4 linked regions of the Homo sapiens genome follow. The protein of the gene in region 1 interacts with the protein of each later gene in a biochemical or structural test. Each region holds a gene or a part of one and is shown on either strand. Other genes may lie near its edges.

Evidence for each region.
Region 2: the proteins of MAPK8IP1 (region 1) and ITGB3 form a complex in vitro, tested with the Homo sapiens proteins (one study listed by IntAct).
Region 3: the proteins of MAPK8IP1 (region 1) and LRP2 form a complex in vitro, tested with the Homo sapiens proteins (one study listed by BioGRID).
Region 4: the proteins of MAPK8IP1 (region 1) and LRP1 form a complex in vitro, tested with the Homo sapiens proteins (one study listed by BioGRID).

Annotation. Positions count from the first base shown.
Region 1 is NC_000011.10:45,883,641-45,889,723, reverse strand, and holds the start of MAPK8IP1 (C-Jun-amino-terminal kinase-interacting protein 1), read right to left. Parts: upstream 4,074-6,083; 5' UTR 3,904-4,073; coding exon 3,803-3,903; intron 1-3,802. UniProt on the Homo sapiens protein: The JNK-interacting protein (JIP) group of scaffold proteins selectively mediates JNK signaling by aggregating specific components of the MAPK cascade to form a functional JNK signaling module. Required for JNK activation in response to excitotoxic stress.
Region 2 is NC_000017.11:47,284,827-47,289,754, reverse strand, and holds part of ITGB3 (integrin beta-3 precursor), read right to left. Parts: intron 3,496-4,928; coding exon 3,333-3,495; intron 2,686-3,332; coding exon 2,524-2,685; intron 75-2,523; coding exon 1-74. UniProt on the Homo sapiens protein: Integrin alpha-V/beta-3 (ITGAV:ITGB3) is a receptor for cytotactin, fibronectin, laminin, matrix metalloproteinase-2, osteopontin, osteomodulin, prothrombin, thrombospondin, vitronectin and von Willebrand factor.
Region 3 is NC_000002.12:169,354,795-169,360,351, forward strand, and holds part of LRP2 (low-density lipoprotein receptor-related protein 2 precursor), read right to left. Parts: intron 1-5,557. UniProt on the Homo sapiens protein: Multiligand endocytic receptor. Acts together with CUBN to mediate endocytosis of high-density lipoproteins. Mediates receptor-mediated uptake of polybasic drugs such as aprotinin, aminoglycosides and polymyxin B.
Region 4 is NC_000012.12:57,210,004-57,214,750, forward strand, and holds the end of LRP1 (prolow-density lipoprotein receptor-related protein 1 preproprotein), read left to right. Parts: intron 1-25; coding exon 26-166; intron 167-303; coding exon 304-477; intron 478-714; coding exon 715-876; intron 877-1,172; coding exon 1,173-1,347; intron 1,348-1,483; coding exon 1,484-1,585; intron 1,586-1,746; coding exon 1,747-1,811; intron 1,812-1,923; coding exon 1,924-2,014; intron 2,015-2,113; coding exon 2,114-2,258; intron 2,259-2,411; coding exon 2,412-2,552; 3' UTR 2,553-3,358; downstream 3,359-4,747. UniProt on the Homo sapiens protein: Endocytic receptor involved in endocytosis and in phagocytosis of apoptotic cells. Required for early embryonic development. Involved in cellular lipid homeostasis.

The sequences.
Region 1 (6,083 bases):
TGGGGGAGCCACTCGCCCTCTCTTGTTTCCTCATAAGGGGAGGGAGCTGGTTGGACGAGCTGGTCTCTAAGGTCTCTCAGATCCACGATTCCCCTTCTACACACCCCAGACAGGCCGCTCGCTCCCTTCTTGTCCATGAAACCCCCTTTGTCTCTGCTGTTCCTCCCACGTGAACTGTCCTTCTGCCCCTCCTCTTTGTCCCACCTACCCAGTGCCAATGTCTCCACTGTGTAAATTTCTAAATTCTCTTTTCTAGAGTTTTCTTTATAATGAACATGTATCACTTTAATTTTGAATTTTCTTTTATTATTTTGTAAGACACAGAAGTAACCTATACTCATTATAAAATAAGAAGTCAAATACAGGTGAGCAGCCCTAATCCAAAAACCTGAAATCTGAAATGCTCCAAAATCCTAAATGTTTGAGCACCAACATAACAGCACAGGCTGTAAATTCCACACCTGACTCCACATGACAGGTTGTAATCAAAACTTTGTTTCATGCACACAATTATTTAAATTATTGTATAAAATTACCTTGAGGCTATATGTATAAGATATATAAGAAAAAATCAATTTCATTTTTAGACTTGGGTTCCCATCCCCAAGCTATTTCGTTATGCATATGCAAATATTCCAAAATCCAAAAAAATTAGAAATCTGAAACACTTCTGGTCCAAAGCATGTCAGATCAGGCATACTCAACCTGTAATATAAAAGTATGACACTGGGCGTGGTGGCTCGAGCCTGTAATTCCAGCACTTTGGGAGGCTGAGATGGGTGGATCACCTGAGGTCAGGAGTTCAAGACCAGCCTGGCCAACATGTTGAAACCCCGTCTCTACTAAAAATACAAAAATTAGCCGGGCGTGGTGGTGGGCACCTGTAATCCCAGCTACTTGGGAAGCTGAGGCAGGAGAACCGCTTGAACCCAGAATACAGAGGTTGCAGTGAGCTTAGATCATGCCACTGCACTCCAACCTCCAGCCTGGGCGACAGAGTGAGACTCTGTCTCAAAAAAAAAAAGTATGTAAAATAAGAAGTAAAAATCCCTCACCCCATACCATACCCAAAGGTAACCAACCACTATAAACAGCTGGAGCTATAATCAGAACAAAAATTAACACGTATTTAACCTACCACAAACAAACGAATGCTCCCACCCCTTCAGGTCAGGTCCACATGCTCGCCCCCTCCGCACATGCTCTTCCAATACTCTAGGGCTCTTTCTTTTTGGGGTGGCTCTGACATCAGACTGCCTGCCACTTACAAGCTCTGCCACTTACCTAACCTCCCTCTGCCTCAGTTTCTTCATGCAAGTGTGGATAATAACAACGCTCTGTTGATACAGTTATTGGGAGGAGTAAATACTCTTGCACATAGGAAACTCTTAGAATGGTGCCTGGGCGAACTGAGTGCCTTCCAAATGTCAGCGCTTACCACTGTTATTGAGTAACTATCCCGTGCTGAGCAATGGGGATACCAAAGTTTGGGTACAGACCCCCTTTATTTTCTGGGAGCTGACAGTGGCACTGGGGGTCAAGGCGCCTGTGTGTGTGTGCACACACACAGCCCTGCCTACAGGCGGCTCTCCTCAGCCCTTGAAACACTCAACACGTGTTATCTCATCTGATTCTTAGGACCATCCTGAGCAGGGGCCAGTGCTGGCATCTCAGAGGCTCAGAGGGCTTAAGTGCCCAGTGTCAGGGCACACAGGTAAGAAGGGCCAGCCAGGATTCAAACCCAGGCCAGTTGGATCTATGACTCCACCAAAGAGCCACAAGAAAGCACTATCTACCCACCCAGGGTTAAGTGGAGCCTGGCCAAGCACAGTGAGAGGCGGGCCAGGAGAAAGGGCAGCGGGGGCTTTGGGAGCAGCGGGGCAGGCCGGCAGGGCCTGAGACACTGACGCTTATTATTCCCACGCACTGGCCTTGTCTCCGCAGCCAGGCCACCATGTTCTGGAGTGCTGGCCCACACCTCAGCCTCGTGGCCTACTGCCACCCTTGTCCCACATGCCGCAGAGCTGGCCACACATTCACTGGCTGGTGTCTGCTTCCTCAGCTCCTCTCATTAAAGCATCTATGACACCTGGGGAAGCAGGTCGAGGAAGAAAAGCTGCCCACTGGGCCAGAGGCAGGGCTGGGACGTAGAGTGGACTAAACACGCACAGACCTGGGTCCCAGTGTAGCCTTAGTCTCTGACTCTTTTGTAGTCTCCAGATGAGCCACCCTGCCTTTGTTAATCTCAATCACCTCATCTATAAAATGGGCAGGTCACTACCCTCTCTTGGGGCAGTTATGAGGGTTAAAGGAGGGGCCTTGGGAAGACACTCTGGACAGCAGCGAGCCGTAGTGTTGTCTGCTAGTGTGGGGGCTGACACTTGTTGAACACTGACCTGATGTGCTTTTTCTCCTTTCCAGGCAAGAATCAATATTAATTAGCCCACTTAACAGATGGCACCCAGAGAGGACAAAAACCTGCCTGGGTCATGCAGTTAGAAAGTAGTGGAGCTAGGATTTGAACCCAGGTCCCTCTAAGCCCCATGTGCTTCCACTGCAGAGGCCTCCAGGTGGGGAGGCAGTATTTGCATGGAGGCCTCATGCACCATGCCAGGTGGAGTCTCAGACCTCAGTCTAAGGCATTATCAGAGAGCTGCAGCCCTGGAGCCTTCAGGCCTGGCCTCCTCCATCTGGCCCCCTCTGGTCCTTCCAGCTCAGCTCAGGGCCTCAGGGAAGGTTTCTGAGTTTGATGATGCTATTAGAGATCCCCAGGGGTCTCTGCCCACCTGAGGACCTGGGAGCCAGTGACCCCTTGCTCCCAGGAGGGGCTGGCACCACAGCCCAGCTGGAGCCTGGCTGGGGTGGTGCCCCAGGAGAGGGGAAGGCGCCAGTTCTCGAGATGGGGAAACAATGGGGTATGTCTAAGCCTCCCTCTCTAGGCCGGGAGCAGTGACTTCGGCCTCTTCCTCCCCACCAACTAGGGTTCAGAATTATGGGGGAGGTACATCTATTCCTCCTCCACACAACACTCACCCCTCACTTCTCTGAAATGCATCGGGCCTAACACCAGATTGGGGGGTGGGGGTGGTGGAATAGGAGCTCAGGTCAGGGTTCTGGGTATTTACCCCAGCAGGGATCCCCTCGACACCCTCGCTGGCCCTGGCTACTCCAGAGCCGAGCCGACTTCCCTTCCCGCAGCCGGGCCTAGGATTCCCCTGGTTGAGGCTGAGCCTTCAGCGCCTGCCCTGAGAGACACACCTGCCTAGGTCGGTGCTGCCCAATCCAGAGAGGGGCCCGGCCACGCCAGGCCTGGCAGGTAGGCCCATCTGGCCAGGCAGGGCTCGGGGAGGGGCTCAAACATCCTCCTCCCAGCACCAACAATGTCGTTGCCCCAGGAAACTGCGACCCGCGCCCCTCCAGGCTGTTCCCAGCTCTATTCACAGGCTAAGATGCAGCCTGCCTGCCCGCTCCGGGATCGCAACCCCGACCCCAGACCCTGCCGCAGCCCGGAGGTTGGGGAGAAGGAGGCCTCCGAGCCCCCTCCTCCAATTCCAGCGCAGACCTCCCAGCCTAGGACCAGGAATGGCGGAGGGAACAGCCTCGTGAACATGCAACGGCTACCAGTCCGGACTTGAGGCTGGCGGGGCTTCTGAGGGGGGCTCTGTCCCGGGAAGAGACCCCACTCCCACGCAGCCCTTTCGTTCCCGGGTTCCCGAGGTTCTGGGGTGGGGGGCGGGCAGGGCAGCCAATGCGGATCAGTCCCCGCTGAAGGGCGAGGCGCGCGGCGGCCGGGGACTCTCACCTGAAATTGGGAGGCGAAGCGATGTGCAGCCCCAGGAACGGGGAGGCGGCGGGCGGGGACGCGGCCCCCCCTCCCAGGCCGCCGCTTTCTCGCTCCGCCATTCTCGGGCACAGCCCTGGCCATCCGGGCGGAGCGCGGCGCGGAGGAGGCGGCGGCTGCGAAGGAGGCGGAGGCGCGGCGAGAGGGCAGCCGCCGCCGCGGAGTTCGGGCTAGGCGGGCGCACCTGTGTCTGGCAGGGCGCGGCACAGCACCGCGCACGGCCCGCGGGACTGGCGAGAGCGCCCCGCGCGCGCCCCCGGGACCCGGCCGGGGTCTCGCGCGCCCCGCCCAGGCCCCGCCCCCACCCCGCCAGCCCCGCCCCCGGAGATGGCGCTCTCCGCGGTGCTGAAGCCACGGCCCCCGCGGCCCTGGGCTTGGTTCAGCCCCGCCCTAAATCCGACATCGACTCTCCTCCACCCCGTGGCCGGTGTGGGCTTTGTCCCTCCGGTTGGGCTTAGTGCCCGGGTATCAGATGACTAATGGCAGGACACTGGACCCCAAGGTCCAGGTTGGCCCCCCGCAGCAGAGACCAAGAAGGCAGGCGGAAAAGGAGGGTCGTGGAGGAAGGCAGAGAAAGGAGAGGATGTCAGTGGGCTCTTAAAGTGTACAGGTTTGGAGTCAGGTGGTGTGAATTCACTGGCTCCACAAGTGACTGGGCAGTGGGGCCTTGCATTAGTGACTTCAGAGCACTAAGGTTTGGTCTTCTTATCTGTGAAATGGGACAATAGCAGTCCCTCTCATGGTTGTTGTGAGAATGTAACGTAACACAAATGTGTTGCCTGAGACCCAGAAACACTCCACCTCCTGCGCTGGGATCCAGCCCTCACCCCAGTCCTGTCCCTTTACCTTGAGGGGACCCTCCCAAAGACTCTCCCTAGAGGCTGTCTTCTCTAAAGATTGACCCAAATCTCTCTTCAGCCCCAAACAGCTACTCGTGGTGAATTGAGCCCTCCAGGCTTCTCGGTCTCTCGCCAGGACCTTCCCAGCATTCTCCTTCTTAGCGCCTCAACTGCATTTCCTGCAGAGCACCCCTCTTCTGCACCCACAGACACACATTCTAAGACTTGGCGCCTTTCCCTCTCCTCCCACTGTTGACTTCTTGGGATCATTTTGGTTGTTTCTGTTCCCTCTGGCACCTCCATCCCTGCTAGGCTTTGGCCATGGCTTCTTCCTCATTGTCTCTCCCTCGAGAGGGTGTTATTCCTGGGCTTCCAGGCCTTCAAGTCCCTGAGTTTCCCGATTGAGTTATTTCAGAGTACGGACTGCCAAGGCTAGGGCCTTAGCTTTGCTGGGTCGTAGAGCCTCTGGTCAAACCTCATTGGCTTCTCTGGTCTCTCGAGAGAACCCTAGAGACCCTGTCCACAGGGCAGAAAACGTGCAGAGCAAACTGTGCCACAACTCGTGGAGTCCTATTTGCAAATCTGGACTGCCGACCAGTCATGCTGGCCCCTTTCCTTCAGTGCGGCACCTAGCAAGGAGCTGGAGGCACCTTCCGTGCAGAAGGCAACCTCCGACCACCAGCCCTGAGAATATCCCAATACCTAGAGCCAAAGGTCATGGCTGCTTCTCTTTTCCCTGTCCCTGGGGCCCAGAGGGGTGGCCACTACTTTCTCAGCTTTCGTGATCAGGCCCCTTTCACTGGGCCCTCACGGTAATCATCTGCTGCCATGGTGCCTGGCTTTTCCTCTCAGGAAAGCAGTCTTGCCATCATGGCTACTAATCGTTCCTTAGAATGTAGACCTGCCTCAGCTAGGGAACATCCTTAGCAGGTCAGGGGTGGATGTAAAGGACAACTCCCTCTTCCAGAACCTTTTGCTCAAGAGCAAAGTTATCTTAGCTCCAAAGACCAACCCAAAGCCATTATTAGAGAGAAGCCAGAAGGGCAAGAAGGAAAGGCAGGCCCAGGTCTTGGTATGAGGGAGGCCAGCAGGAGCTTCAGAGCAGAGCCAAGAATGAGACAAGTTCCCAAGGCAGGTTCCTCCCCTTTTCTCCTTCTTCACTCTGTGCAGGCCAGACTGTGATATTCTTGGGCCTTGCCTGGGCCCCTTCCCAGAAAGTTGGGGTGTGAGCTAATAAAGCTTTCAGTCCAAGGCTAGCATCCCCTAGCATGGAAGCAGGGCACACTGCACAGAGAGGGGCCATTCTCTGGCCAGGAGACAAAGCCAGCATCCAGGCGCCCTAGGCTTGGCTGTGGGCAGATCTCAACCACCTAGTCACAGCCAGAGAGCCTGCATCCCCTCCT
Region 2 (4,928 bases), on another chromosome or scaffold:
TCAGTCACTGCAAAGATCAAATTGATGTTTTTCTGGGATAGCTTCTCAGTCATCAGCCCCAAAGAGGGATAATCCTAGGAAAATGAAGGATGTAGAGGTTAATGACGTCTCATGTACATCTCTAGGGTCTAAAGCTTAGAACTTATCTTGCTTGGGCTGTGGCTCAGAGTGTGGTGGTGCTTAAACCATTTCACTTCATGCTGAAAGTGAGACAAGAGCCTGGGCAACATAGCAAGACCCCATCTCTACAAAAAAATTTTTTTTATTTGCCAGATGTGGTGGTAAGTGCCTATAGTCCTAGCTACTGGGGAGGCTGAGGCAGGATCACTTCAGCCCAGGAGTTGGAGGTTACAGTGAGCTATGATTGCACCACTGCACTCCAGCCTGGGCAGCAGAGCAAGACTCTGTCTCTAAAAAAAAAAGGGGGGTGACAGTGAGATAAGAAGGGTAAGTAGCACAGAAGTCTACTTGTGAACTCCAGGGATAGACGAAGAGGTACAGGCCAGTGGTGTCAAAACTAAGCACCTCTTTCTTCCTGCTTGAATTTAATGCACTAATACTATGGAGCTGCTTCCGTGCACAAGGGACTGGGTTAGGCCTCTGTTTTGGAACTACTGACAAATGCCTTGGCCTGGCCCTCGTGATCCTCCACCGTGTGGTCTCAGTCTTTCTTTCCAAATATTGCTCACCTCTCTCCCTCTTCCACTCAGCAGTGATCTGGCCCACTGTCTCCCACCTGGAGTGGCCTTCTTGTTGGTAATCCTCCTCCTTTCTTAGGGCCTAGCTTAGCCCCCACCTTCTTCAGGAGACTTCCTTGGCCATCCCAGCTCATGATGACCTTTCCTCCCTTGGATACGTATAGCCACATTGGCTGTGCCACACCCATTTGGCACTAATCATGCATCTTGTGTTATTGTAAATATATATATCCTTTCTCCTCAAGTAGACCAAAAACTCCCCAAGGATAGAACCATACATAGTCTTGTTACCTCCCTCAGCCCCTGGCCCAGTGCCTTGCATAGATTAGGGGTCAAATGTTGCTGACTCATTGTCTGGTAGTGCTTGACTTGGATATGGCTGACACCAAGGAACTCAAGGACACTGTGCGGGGGCGGTGGTGAATCGTGAACATGTCCATGGGATCCTAGACCTTGCAGGGAGCTCATTAGATCCTCAGCTCAGTCTCCTGCCTTTACACAGGTACACCTTTAAGTCACCTAGATGAGGAAGTTGCTATATTGTCCTTAGGAGACGAAGAGTTCACACCTGCCCCAGATACCTAGAGCATTACAGCACATTTCTCTTATGGCTTATAGTAATTTCTCCTGATTCAATTTAAATATTTTCCTCTTGTTTAACCTTCTATGGCCATATAAAACAACTTATAAGAAGTTTTCTCATGTATAAGCTAAATCATCCTTTAGCCTTCTTTCTTTCAAGCTAAATGACTCTGGCCCTTTAATCTTTCCTCGTAGGACCTGTTCACCATGCCTTTTATGTTCTTTCCCCTCTTTCTCTCTCTCTCTCTCTCTCTCTCTCTCTCTCTCTTTCTAAGAGAAGGGGTCTCCACTAGGAGCAATGGCTCACACCTGTAATCCCAGCACTTTGGGAGGCTTAAGAGGGCAGATTGCTTAAGCCAAGGAGTTTGAGACCAGCCTGGGCAACATAGAAAGACCCTGTTTTCAAAAATTAGCTGGGCATGGTAGTGCATGCCTGTGGTCCCAGCTATTCAGGAGACTGAGGTGGTGAAGCTTGTGAGCCAAGATTGCACTACTGCACTCCAGCTGGGCAACAAAGCAAGACTCTGTATCAAAAAAAAAAAAAAAAAAAAAAAAAAAAAAAAGCAGGGGTGGTTCTTGCTCTGTCACTCAGGCTGGAGTGTAGTGGCAAGATCACAGCTCACTGCAGCCTCAGACTACTGGGCTCAAGAGATCTTTCTGCCTCAGCCCCACAAGTAGCTGGGACCATAGGCACAAACCACAACACTCAACGAATTTTTGCATTTTCTTGTAGAGGCAGGGTCTCACTATATTTCCCAAGCTGGTTTCAAACTCCTGGACTCACGTGATCCTCCCACCTCAGCCTCCCAAAGTGCTGAGATTACAGGCATGAGCCATCATATGCCTGGCCAATCTTTCTCTTTTTTTTCCTCTGTCTTCTTCCAATAACCACAAGTTAGTATGGTATTCCAAGAAAGGGCTAATCAGAGTGGAGAGGAAGACCTGCTTTCCAGCTGGGTTGTAAAAATCCTTTGGGTCCATTCTGGATCCCATGATGCTGCTGCTATGCTGGTGACAGTGAAGGCAGTGATAACACCACAATCAGGGACATCTCTAATGGTTATATAGGTTGTATGCTGGATGACGGTGTCCAGTTGGTAAGGGATAGGGGCAAGCTGGAACCGAGCCCTGCACCCTGCCCAGAAGGAGGGGCTGCCATTTTCATATTCACACAGACTCTGCCTAGATTAGGGCAACCCTCACAATCATGAATAGAAACCATAGGTGGTGCCAGAGATCTCACCATGGTAGTGGAGGCAGAGTAATGATTGTCACTACCAACATGACACTGCCCGTCATTAGGCTGGACAATGCCTGCCAGCCTTCCGTCCAATGCTATATGAGTCTTGGCATCAGTGGTAAACACCAGCAAGTGGGATGCATCATTCCTCCAGCCAATCTTTTCCTGTTAAAAGAAAACAAAAAACAAAGGCAGAGGAGACAAAACAAATTCAGCCATGTCACTGGTAGAGAACAGAGACCCAAGGTGCTCCCTGGCTAAAGGGCTGGACAGCTTATTTTTCTTCAAAACAAGGGTCTCAGTCCCAGTCCTTGGAACCGAAGCTGAAGCTTTCCAGTTCAGGAGTTTCATTCTCTTCAGAAAACAGTCTCATAGCTGATTAGTTCAAGCAGCTGAATGAGATCTTCTTAAACTCCAAACTTAACTCTTCTAATGACAGTCACATTGCTCATCTAGAAACTGACGTGCATCCACAGAGCTGATCTGGGCTAGAAGAAATCTCATCTGAACATCTGCCTACTTTGCTGAGGTTAAGTTAACTCAGCCTTAACTCTGAAGTAACTCTGAAGATGGGAAGATGCTCTCCCCTGGGAACATCTGAGACCACTGAGGTTCAAAGAAATGTCAGCTCAGGCCAGGGAGTGGATCTAAGCCAAGGCTGAATATCAGGAGCAACTTACTACTCATAACTGCAGGAAGCCCTGCTTAGTTCTCATCTCATTTTACACCAGAAATCCCCAGAGTTCAGTCACTTCCTTTCCCATTTTGATCTATGCCAGCCACACCTGGCACTCCAAGTCCTCCAAACTCACATCACAGACTGTAGCCTGCATGATGGCATCAAAGCCACCCTCTGGGGCATCTCGGTTCCGTGACACACTCTGCTTCTTCACTTCCTCATTGAAGCGGGTCACCTGGTCAGTTAGCGTCAGCACGTGTTTGTAGCCAAACATGGGCAAGCAGGTGGTCTTCATACTGGGGAGGGATGGGAGATAATTTAAGCAGACACCTTCATGGAAAAGGCAGCATGGGAATTGGGAGGAAAGAGAGGGGACAAATATAGATAGTGGTATGCCAAGGCCAGTTCCATACAACCACAGTTACCCAGACAGTTCAGACTCCAAAATCCTCAAATTATCTGAAGCTCCCCATCAACATTACCCCCATCCAGCTAACCTAGAAGATAAGAGATTGAGCTGGAAACAAGACTCCCTGAGCTTAGATCCCAGGTGCCCTCTGTACTAGTCATGGGACCTTTGGCAAGCCTCTCAATCCAACCTATGAAAGAGGGGCCAGGATAGCACATATCCCATAAGAGTTGTGAGACTTAAGTAAGTTCATACACACAAAGCACTTAGACCAGAGCGAGGCTCGAGTTGCTATTACTATCACCTTATACTTAACACTTTCCTAAAGTAACAATAAAGCAAAAGTCCATCAGTAAGTTAAGGTCCCTGAACCATCAATAAATTGATAGATCATGCAAGACAGGAGCATTTCTGCCCCCAGTCAAAATAGTGTGTTTAATTAATAGCTGATGTCTTGCCTGGGAACCTTACAACCCAGATAGAAGGTTGAATGCCACATCATATAACTTCAAAACTTTTTCTTTTTTTTTTAGAGACAGTTGTGCTCCATTGTCCAGGTTGGAGTGCAGTGGCACAATCATGGCTCACTGCAGCCTCAACCTCCCAGGCTCAATCAATCCTCCCACCTCAGCCTCCCTGTAGTCCTGGGGACTGCAGGCATGCGCCATCACACATAGCTAATTTTTTTGTAATTTTTGTAGAGATGGGGGTCTCACTATGTTGCCTAGGCTGAACTCAAACTCCTAGGCTCAAGTGATCCTCCCATCTTGGCCTCCCAAAGTGCTGGGATTACAGAAGTGAGTCACCCCACCTGGCCGTAACTTTGAAAACTAAAAAGTAAATTCACACCTTTTCAGGCTCAGCAACCAGCATTGTAAGTTATTCTAATACATGGATTTGCACAGTCTCCACCGATTAAATAAATAAGCCATTCAGTTTTAAGCCAAAGTGTCAAACAGAGGCACAAGTTATCCATTTACAGACTATAAAAGTGTCCAACAAATGTCATTTCCACTCTTTTATATTCCTTAGCACTTCATTTCTTCTGTTTTCACCCTGCAGGATGCACGGCCTTGATGAAGACAATAATGCCAACAATGGAATCGATCCTTCTGTAATCGTAATTTCTCGGTTTCCTTATCCATAAATTTCTTTCTACTTTTGACGTCATTTCCCTCCCATTCTCTCTTGCCTTCTATTTATTTGTTACCAAGACTGAGAAGCTGATGAATTTTCTTTCTAGGTTCTCCAAACAGCCTTAGGCTCCATTGACACAACACTCCAGATCCACAAGCTAGCCCATTTGCCAAACAGGGAGAC
Region 3 (5,557 bases), on another chromosome or scaffold:
TTTATGAAAGAAGTCCATAGATGAAGTGCTAAGGACACTCAGATGTGCACCAAGATGTGTTCTGTCTCCACAGAAGCATCTTAACCTGTCTGCAAACTCTTTAAGCTTCTTTCTCTCTACCCCATCCTTATAGCAAAGGACTAGTGCTTGGAAAACAGACAAACTCTTAGGAACATAAACATTGGAGTGAAGTAAATTGGAAAAGGAGTAGGAGCCTAAGATTCACAGAAAAATGAAATACTGCACCAGACTTAAGGGATCCTGTAGTCTGATCGCTCAGCTCATTTTCCAGAACTTTCCTGTCTATCACAAAGCTCTGCTCCAAATAAGAAAACTTTAGGATCCAAATAAACCTTCTAAAAGTCCTTCTTTCTCCTGTTCTCCTTCTAAACTTAAAGTTGCAACATGGTCACATGGGCACAGATCACCATGTCTTTTTTCTTAATGTTTCCAATACTTTATTCCTTTCAATTCTGTAAGTTACCCCAGGGCTGCCAGCTCTTGAGAAATTTCTGTAGCTTTTTCAAGTGTGTCTTCACATACAAAATGAAAATAACATCGTCAGTCAATTTTATCTGATAAGGTATACTGAACACCTGTTATTTTTGCATCCCAGCCTCTGTTCACCATTCTCCCAATAATTACCCCCATTTCTCTCTGGACTCCACCCCTTCATACATGATCTCAAAGACTGAGTATACAGCCCAAGCCTAAGCCATGGGAACACATCATGACCCGGGATTCAGTGGTTGGTTCTCCAATGAGTTTATGACCTAAGTAGAGACCCTGAGATGCAACTGAAACTTTTGCTGGGAATAGCTAAGATAAAAACTCTTTTTCTTTCCCAGTGGATGTGATCTGATAGGAGGTGGCTCCAGAGCCACTGACAGCCGCTTTACATCAAAGGAGAACATGTTTAAGAATGGAGTCATCTCAGAGCCAGGAGACGGAAAAAAGACAAGATTGGCCTGACATAGTTTGAGCCTCCATTTTATATTAGGTTGAACCAAATGAAATTGCCAATATTTGACTATTTCTGCATAGGAAAAAAAATCAATCTCAAATGGATCAACCTAATTATCTGTATCTTTTCAACTATGTATTTATTTTCTTTGAGACAGGGTCTCACTCTGTCGCTGAGGCTGGAGTGCAGTGGCATGATCACAGCTCACTGTAGCCTCGACCTCCTGGGCTCAAGCGATCATCTCACCTCAGCCTCCCAAGTAGCTGGGACCACAAGGGCACACCACCATTCCTGGCTAATTTTTTGTATTTTTTGTAGAGATGGAGTCTCACTATGTTGCCCAGGCTGGTCTCAAACTCCTAGGCTCAAGCAATCCGCTCACCTCAGACTCCCAAAGTGCTGAGATTTATAGGCATGAGCCACCACACCCAGCCTCAACTATGTATTTCAATAACCTTCCTTTTTTGCCTCAGACAGTTTAACTTAGTTTTGTGACATTCACCAACATAACAGTACTGAATAACATGTGAAGTTGTGGTAGCCACTGTAAGGATGTAACAACATGCACAGGTGCATCATTCTCAGACCCACGGTAAAGAAGATACCAAAATACTGCAACATCTTCCTCCTCTCAAGTTTGGAAAAAGTAAAATTCTCGTATTGGGTAATAATGATGAATGGAAATCTATATGAGACTTCACAGTTTATTAAACATTTCACATTCATTGCCTTTGCATAACCACCCCGTGAGGTAGATATATGTCCATTTTACAGATAAGAAAACTGCCCCAGAGCACCCAGCATGTGTGGTACTGGATTTCCCAGATAATAAATGGCAGAGGTAGGAATCAAACCAAGATCCTCCAACTTCAAAATCACAAGCCCTTCCCACTTCATCTCAAAACACTGTAACTGTCAAGAAATTACTTCGGAAACATTTGCATTAGGAACATGTGAAGAACCACAGAAATGCTCTTGACATTTCAAAACAACTACTAGCTGATCATTATCAAGAAGCATCCCAGAACTCGGATGCTGAAACATCTCCAATCTTTCTAATGCTGGTGAGATCCTGGGCAGGGTTATTAGGAATGAGTCAATGACTATTTCAGAATCTTAAATGCAAAACTGCAGTCCATTTTAATTGCGAGATATGTAGACACCTCTTTTCAGTTCTCATCTTCCTTAATGTTTCTGTAGTATTGATACTATTGACTCATCAGCACACTGTTGATATTTAATAAATATTCATGGAAAAAATAAAATAAACATTCACAGAATACACAATAGTGGTAAAAATTTTTAATTACTCAAGACTATAAAGTTAATAGGATACGATAGAACCATTTGATTTATACCAAAGGTTCCATCAAGCTTATTTTTTCCATGCTAGAATAGGGCTTCACAATTAGTATTTTTTTAGTTGCTCTAGATTCGTGCAGTCAACCTTGAGAACCCCTTTCCTATCCATTCAACACTCTTTCATAAGCACCTTCTACTTTCTTTTCTTTTTTTTTTCTTTTTTATTTATTTTTATTTTATTTTATTTTATTTTATTTTATTTTATTTTATTTTATTTTATTTTATTTTTGAGACAGATTCTTGCTCTGTCACCCAGGCTGGAGTGCAGTGGCACAATCTCAGCTCACTGCAATCCCTGCCTCCTGTGTTCAAGCAGTTCTCCTGCCTCAGCCTCCCGAGTAGCTGGGATTACAGGTGTGCGTCACCACGCCCAGCTAATTTTTGTGTTTTAAATAGAAACAGGGTTTCACCATGTTGGCCAGGCAGGTCTCGATCTCCTGACCTCATGATCCTCCCGCCTCAGCATCCCAAAGTGCTGGGATTACAGGCATGAGCCCCCACGCCCAGCTCAGCACCTTCTACTTTCTACTTACCTTGTTCTAGCTACTAGGACTTAACAGAAACTCCAAAGCCAATATGACAATGCACTTGCTTCTGATTACACAGGAAATACATCTAGGTTCCTGGTATCATTATTTTTAAATGATAATTTAAAATTTTAATTTAAATATTTTAAAAACCTTTCAGTGTTCTTACAGTGCCTGACTAGAGAACATGAACAATGATTATGACCTAATAATTACCTTTAGTAAGACTGAAAACCTAGTCTTACAGCAGCCTGCACTACAAAACCCAAAGATCTTCAGGAATGCGCTTTGATGGCTCAAGAATTTGAAAAATGGATCTGGAGGTATGGTCTTTGGGAGTAGGGGCACTGACATGGCATCAGTTCTGGACCAAGCTGAAAGCGCATGGTACATGGTTGTAATAACCTATCACAGGATTCCTCTTTGGCCAGGGACAGGTAACCCATCCAATTGTTTTTAAGATTCATCTGCTTATCAGACTGTGCCTTATCTGGCAAGTCAGGATTCCAAAAGGAATCTAGAAATCTCAACCAACCAAACAGGCTGGGGACATTCAGAAGGCATGAATCTAAAAAATGGTCCACTGCAAATTTATATCTTAGCTCTGTCACAGGCTAGATGTCCTTAGGCAAGAAACCTATTAACCGCCTTCCCTTTCATCCTCTCAGCCCCTTTCTTCTCCCTCCTGGGCTAATTGCTTATCTGTAAGAAAAAAAAAATGCAAGCAGACCAGTTGATATCTAAGGTTCCCTCTAGCTGTAAAAAGTCTGAGTTTCTATTAAAATGAGACAGGTGCATGACTGAAGGGAGTTCAGGCAGAAGTCTTATGAAGACTGGTAAAGAGAAACTTTTTCAAGTAGAGAAAGAGAAGCCAACAACTGTGAAATTAAAGCAGCAGTGAGGTTCCAGAGTTGTGATGGAATAAAAACGATACAAGTTTGCTATTGCCCCCACAATCCTTTTAAACATATAAACTTCATGTGAAGATGTAATTGTCATAAAAGCTGATACTAACTCTTAAAAACATTACCACATTTTTATTGGATTAAAGAATATAATGTTGGACCAGGTAAGGTGGCTCCTGCCTATAATGTCAGCACTTTGGGAAGCAGAGGTAGGAGGATCATTTGAGGCCAAGAGTTCAAGACCAGCCTGGGCAACACAGTGAGACCCCATTTCTATTTTTGAAAAATAAGTTTTTTTAATTAGTAAACAGAATACAACTTTGTTTAAGGCCAATACGATTTTCTCAAAAAAAAAAAAAAAAAAGAAAAAATCTTCCAATCACATGCTAGGGTCTGAGAAGTCTTCAGAGAACTGTTAGTGAAAAATGCTTAAAGAAGACTTTCCTTTGTATATTTGAAAATTGGAAATGGAAATAGGAATAGGAAGCAAAACAATATGTTACTTTAAGGGTTGATAAATATAATAAAAATATTGTATTTTTAGATTATTTTCTAGTTTATTTTCACTGTCTATATGCTTTACACCATGCTAAGCACTTGGCATATTTTATCTCTTTATGCTTACAAGATGTCATTGGGTAAATTCTCTTATTATCTTGTCAATTTTGCAGATAAGCCATCTGAGCTATGCAAAGTTGGTTGACTTTCCCAAGGTCACACAGCTAGAAAGTGGTAAAGCCAATGTTGGAACCCAACAGCTTGACTCGAGTTCAGACTCTGCAAAATGTTTTTTCTTGAAAAGCATTACACAAAAGATAAGGAAAATGCAAATAATTTTTAACAACAGATGTGGTATAATTTTTTTCAAAGACTAAACATAGAATACTCAGAGCTCTTTTTTTTCCCCTCCAATTTTTAGTGATGCGAAGTTTGCAATGGTAGCCTACCTAAAAGGTAGTGCTTAAATAAAGGCTGTTACAATCTCATTGGATTTTACTTCATATATTAAGTCAGGATCATTACAACAGGATTCTAGAAATCTCAACGTATCAGGCAGAGGACATTCAGAGGAAATGCGTCTTAAAATGATCAAGTAGGAAGACTGGGAATGGGGAGACTTGGGTTCTGGTCTTAGAAACCTGAGGAGAGATTCTGGAAAAAGATCCACAGTTATGAAGCAGCAGGTGGTACGAGTTGCATATTGCCCCTCAGCTTCTTTGGGAACCTCAAACATGGACAGTAAGTTAGGGAGCATGACATTTTTTGTACAAAAGAAAAAAGAGAAATCGGGCCAGGTGCAGTGGCTCACACCTGTAATCCTAGCACTTTGGGAGGCCTAGGCGGGCAGATCACTTGAGGTCAGGAGTTCAAGACTGGCCTGGCCAACATAGCAAAACCCTGCCTCTACTAAAAATACAAAATATTAGCTGGGCATGGTGCCCCGGGCTTGTAGTCCCAGCTACTTGGGAGGCTGAGGTGTGAGGATCGCTTGAACCTGGGAGGCAGAGGTTGCAGTGAGCCGAGATTGCACCACTGCACTCCAGCCTGGGTGACAGAGCGAGATTCTGTCTCTCTCAAAAAAAAAAAAAAAAAAAAGAGAGAGAGAGAGAGAGAAAACCAGACACTGTATACTGTAGCAATTATAGACTCTGAATTCAGAATCCCTTGAGTTTGCCATTTTCTAGCAGTATGAACTGAGACAAATTACTGAATTGTTCTGTGCCTCCACTTTCTCATCTGTAAAACAGTGATAATAAGAGTACTTACTTCCAAGGGATATTATGAAGATTAATTGAGTC
Region 4 (4,747 bases), on another chromosome or scaffold:
CTCCCCACCCCACCCATACCTGCAGTGACCAACCCATGTGACCGCAAGAAATGCGAGTGGCTCTGCCTGCTGAGCCCCAGTGGGCCTGTCTGCACCTGTCCCAATGGGAAGCGGCTGGACAACGGCACATGCGTGCCTGTGCCCTCTCCAACGCCCCCCCCAGATGGTATGCTTATGCCCTCCCAGTCCCAGCCATGCCTCAGGACCATCTCCTTCCTGTGGCTCCTGACTTCCCCTGACCTTGTTGCCTGTCCCTCTCCTCCTATTCCCCTGGCTCTGCCCCTTGACGGGCCCTTCCTGCAGCTCCCCGGCCTGGAACCTGTAACCTGCAGTGCTTCAACGGTGGCAGCTGTTTCCTCAATGCACGGAGGCAGCCCAAGTGCCGCTGCCAACCCCGCTACACGGGTGACAAGTGTGAACTGGACCAGTGCTGGGAGCACTGTCGCAATGGGGGCACCTGTGCTGCCTCCCCCTCTGGTATGCCCCCTCATCCCGCCACGCCTGCTCCTTGCCCCTGGGCCCCAGCCCCGCCACCCACCACCCCACCTCAGGCAAATGCCCAGCCCCTGCCTCGCCTCCAGCCTCCTTTCCACAACCCAGCATCCAGTCACTCCAGTCTCTGCTTCTCGCCCAGGTCCCCCCAGCCCATTCCTCTGCTATAGGGCCAGGTGGTCTCGAGGGCCACAGTCGCGCTCACACATCCTCTCCCACCAGGCATGCCCACGTGCCGGTGCCCCACGGGCTTCACGGGCCCCAAATGCACCCAGCAGGTGTGTGCGGGCTACTGTGCCAACAACAGCACCTGCACTGTCAACCAGGGCAACCAGCCCCAGTGCCGATGCCTACCCGGCTTCCTGGGCGACCGCTGCCAGTACCGTGAGTGAGCCATCCCTGGGCCCCAGGGCATGCGGGAGGGTGACGGGGGACCCCAGAGCATGGGGTGATGTTCAACCTGTGCCTGGGACCCACAGGGGCAAGTTCAGGAAAGAAGGCCTTATGCAGCTGAGCCAGGCCCAAGCTGCTGGCGCTTCCCCACAAAGGTGCTGGCACACTTCCCCTGAGGCAGTGCACCCCCTGCACCAAGATTATGCAAACAGAAAAGCTCTGTTCAACCTATGGAGAGCCCTCATGAGGGTGGGGCTTGAGGCACTTCTCTCCCTCCCCAACCACAGGGCAGTGCTCTGGCTACTGTGAGAACTTTGGCACATGCCAGATGGCTGCTGATGGCTCCCGACAATGCCGCTGCACTGCCTACTTTGAGGGATCGAGGTGTGAGGTGAACAAGTGCAGCCGCTGTCTCGAAGGGGCCTGTGTGGTCAACAAGCAGAGTGGGGATGTCACCTGCAAGTGAGTGGGGCCCTCCTCCACAGTTCCACCCAGCTGGGCCCCTGCCCTGTCCTAGCCCTGCCCTGCCCCTCCCTTCCTCAGCATCCCAGGCACGCCTCTGCCAGCCCCAGCCCCAGCCTCTGATTCCTTCCTGCAGCTGCACGGATGGCCGGGTGGCCCCCAGCTGTCTGACCTGCGTCGGCCACTGCAGCAATGGCGGCTCCTGTACCATGAACAGCAAAATGATGCCTGAGTGCCAGTGAGTTGGGCCCGGGCTTCACCCAGGCATAGATCATCGCTCCCTTCCCCAGATTTGAGCAGGAGGACCGTCAGGCCTCAGTGCCCACCCCCCGCCCTGTTTTCCTGGCAGCAGTGGCTATGGAGGTTATACCTACTCAGCCGTGTCCCTCCTTTCTGCAGGTGCCCACCCCACATGACAGGGCCCCGGTGTGAGGAGCACGTCTTCAGCCAGCAGCAGCCAGGACGTAGGTGGCAGGGGTTGGGGCAGGCAGGGCCACCGGGACCTAGAGCAGGGGGACCGTGTGCCTCCTGCTTCCCTGAGCCTTGGTGACTCAGTGTCCCACCTCTTCCCTCCAGATATAGCCTCCATCCTAATCCCTCTGCTGTTGCTGCTGCTGCTGGTTCTGGTGGCCGGAGTGGTATTCTGGTATAAGCGGCGAGTCCAAGGGTGAGTCACAGGGATTCTGGAACATTCTGGTCATTATTTTGCCATCCTAGCCTTCCCCCCCAATAATCTCTGTCTCCTTATACTCCTGCCTTTCCCCAGGGCTAAGGGCTTCCAGCACCAACGGATGACCAACGGGGCCATGAACGTGGAGATTGGAAACCCCACCTACAAGATGTACGAAGGCGGAGAGCCTGATGATGTGGGAGGCCTACTGGACGCTGACTTTGCCCTGGACCCTGACAAGGTGGGCTGGGAGGCGGGCAGGGTCGAGTGCCAAGAGGCCGTGGGTGGCCTAACCAAAGGTGTTGGGTTAGGTGAGGGACGGAGGTGGGGGTGGGGTAACCTGGGCTACAGGCCCAGCTCCTGAGCCCTACCTGAACCCTCTGTCACCCTGCAGCCCACCAACTTCACCAACCCCGTGTATGCCACACTCTACATGGGGGGCCATGGCAGTCGCCACTCCCTGGCCAGCACGGACGAGAAGCGAGAACTCCTGGGCCGGGGCCCTGAGGACGAGATAGGGGACCCCTTGGCATAGGGCCCTGCCCCGTCGGACTGCCCCCAGAAAGCCTCCTGCCCCCTGCCAGTGAAGTCCTTCAGTGAGCCCCTCCCCAGCCAGCCCTTCCCTGGCCCCGCCGGATGTATAAATGTAAAAATGAAGGAATTACATTTTATATGTGAGCGAGCAAGCCGGCAAGCGAGCACAGTATTATTTCTCCATCCCCTCCCTGCCTGCTCCTTGGCACCCCCATGCTGCCTTCAGGGAGACAGGCAGGGAGGGCTTGGGGCTGCACCTCCTACCCTCCCACCAGAACGCACCCCACTGGGAGAGCTGGTGGTGCAGCCTTCCCCTCCCTGTATAAGACACTTTGCCAAGGCTCTCCCCTCTCGCCCCATCCCTGCTTGCCCGCTCCCACAGCTTCCTGAGGGCTAATTCTGGGAAGGGAGAGTTCTTTGCTGCCCCTGTCTGGAAGACGTGGCTCTGGGTGAGGTAGGCGGGAAAGGATGGAGTGTTTTAGTTCTTGGGGGAGGCCACCCCAAACCCCAGCCCCAACTCCAGGGGCACCTATGAGATGGCCATGCTCAACCCCCCTCCCAGACAGGCCCTCCCTGTCTCCAGGGCCCCCACCGAGGTTCCCAGGGCTGGAGACTTCCTCTGGTAAACATTCCTCCAGCCTCCCCTCCCCTGGGGACGCCAAGGAGGTGGGCCACACCCAGGAAGGGAAAGCGGGCAGCCCCGTTTTGGGGACGTGAACGTTTTAATAATTTTTGCTGAATTCCTTTACAACTAAATAACACAGATATTGTTATAAATAAAATTGTAAAAAAAAAAAAAAAAAAAAAGGCCAAAAAAAAAAAAAAGAAAGAAAAAAAGCCGCTGGTGTCTGCCTGTGTGTGAGAGACGCTGGGAGCTGGGGCTGCGCTTTCCTGCTTCGGCCACCAGAGGGAGACCTGCCCCGTGCTGGAGGCAGGCTGGCGCGTGGTTTTTAGTGCCCTTCTCCCAGGGCCCTCCCCCTCTCCATCTTACTGTGCCCGGGAAGCGGGTGGCACTGGACTTGACATGGAAGATCTGCTTCTCCTGGCTGTGTGACCTTCAGCCATGACTTCGAGTCTCCAGATTTTGTGTTCCCTCTGGGTCTAGGACACTAACTCAGATCTGTTTCTCTGCATTCACTTCTACCAGACACCACCCCCCTACCCAAAATGATCACCCACAGTGAGAAGCCCCACTATAAGAAGTGAATACACTGAGGCTGCAAAGGTTTTCTCATCCTTCAGGGTCCTCCCATGCGGTTCTCTCTGCCTGAGTCTGCTCTTGAAGCACTGACGTCTCACTTTGTGGAGACTAATGAATCAAATGCGAAGTAAAATGCTGCATTCCAGAGCCAGGTGTCTCCTGCGGTAAAGGAGAGCTGGGAAGACCAGTTTGCCAGGCCCTCTAGGCCCCCAGCAGCTCCAGCTCACCAATCATTTCAGTCATTCCAGGGGGTAACAGGAAAAAACTGTCAATCAAAAGTGTCCAGGTCCATTTCAACCCCTGCCTAGAGGGGGAAACTTCTTGCAGAAAGTTGCACAGTTTACACTGCCCAGGACTAGAGAGGGTTTGAGTCCCAGTACAGCAAATATGAGCTCAGGAAGGGTGGCTGCAAATGTCTGAAGATCCCTTACCCAACTCCCAACCAGGAAGTGCTGCCTTTCATTCCTCCTCCCTCACTGGTTCAACTCCAGGAGATTCCTCCCAGGCTTCCTTCTGCCTTGGGGAAGCTACAAGTCTAGGCACCTGTGGAAAGAGGAGCCCTCCCCTTCCCTTCTTAGCCTTCAGAAGCTCTCTCCAACCTCATCCTCCAAGCCAACTCTGAGATCCTCCCCTGCCTTCAAAAGGGCCCTGGATGGGCAACTGCGGGGAAACAGAATCCGTGGTTGCCGAGTAGGAGGTCTGTGTCCCAATCTGGCCACCAGGTGGTGTCTGTACGCCTGGAGCACCGCCTATCCTGAAGCCCCACACAGCCCCCGCCTCAGCACTCATTATGCACCTGCGGGGGACCCCAGCCCAGTCTCTCGCTTCCTTCTCTCCGGCTATTTTGCCACACCCCTCCACCCTCTGCCAGCCAGCTCCCCTCCCTGCCCCAGCGCCTGCCTGCTCCCACCACCACCAGCCCCAACCCTGCCCCTCTGCCATCGGTGCATCTGGTGCCCCCCGGGAGCCACTGATCTCTGCCTGTCACCTCAAGA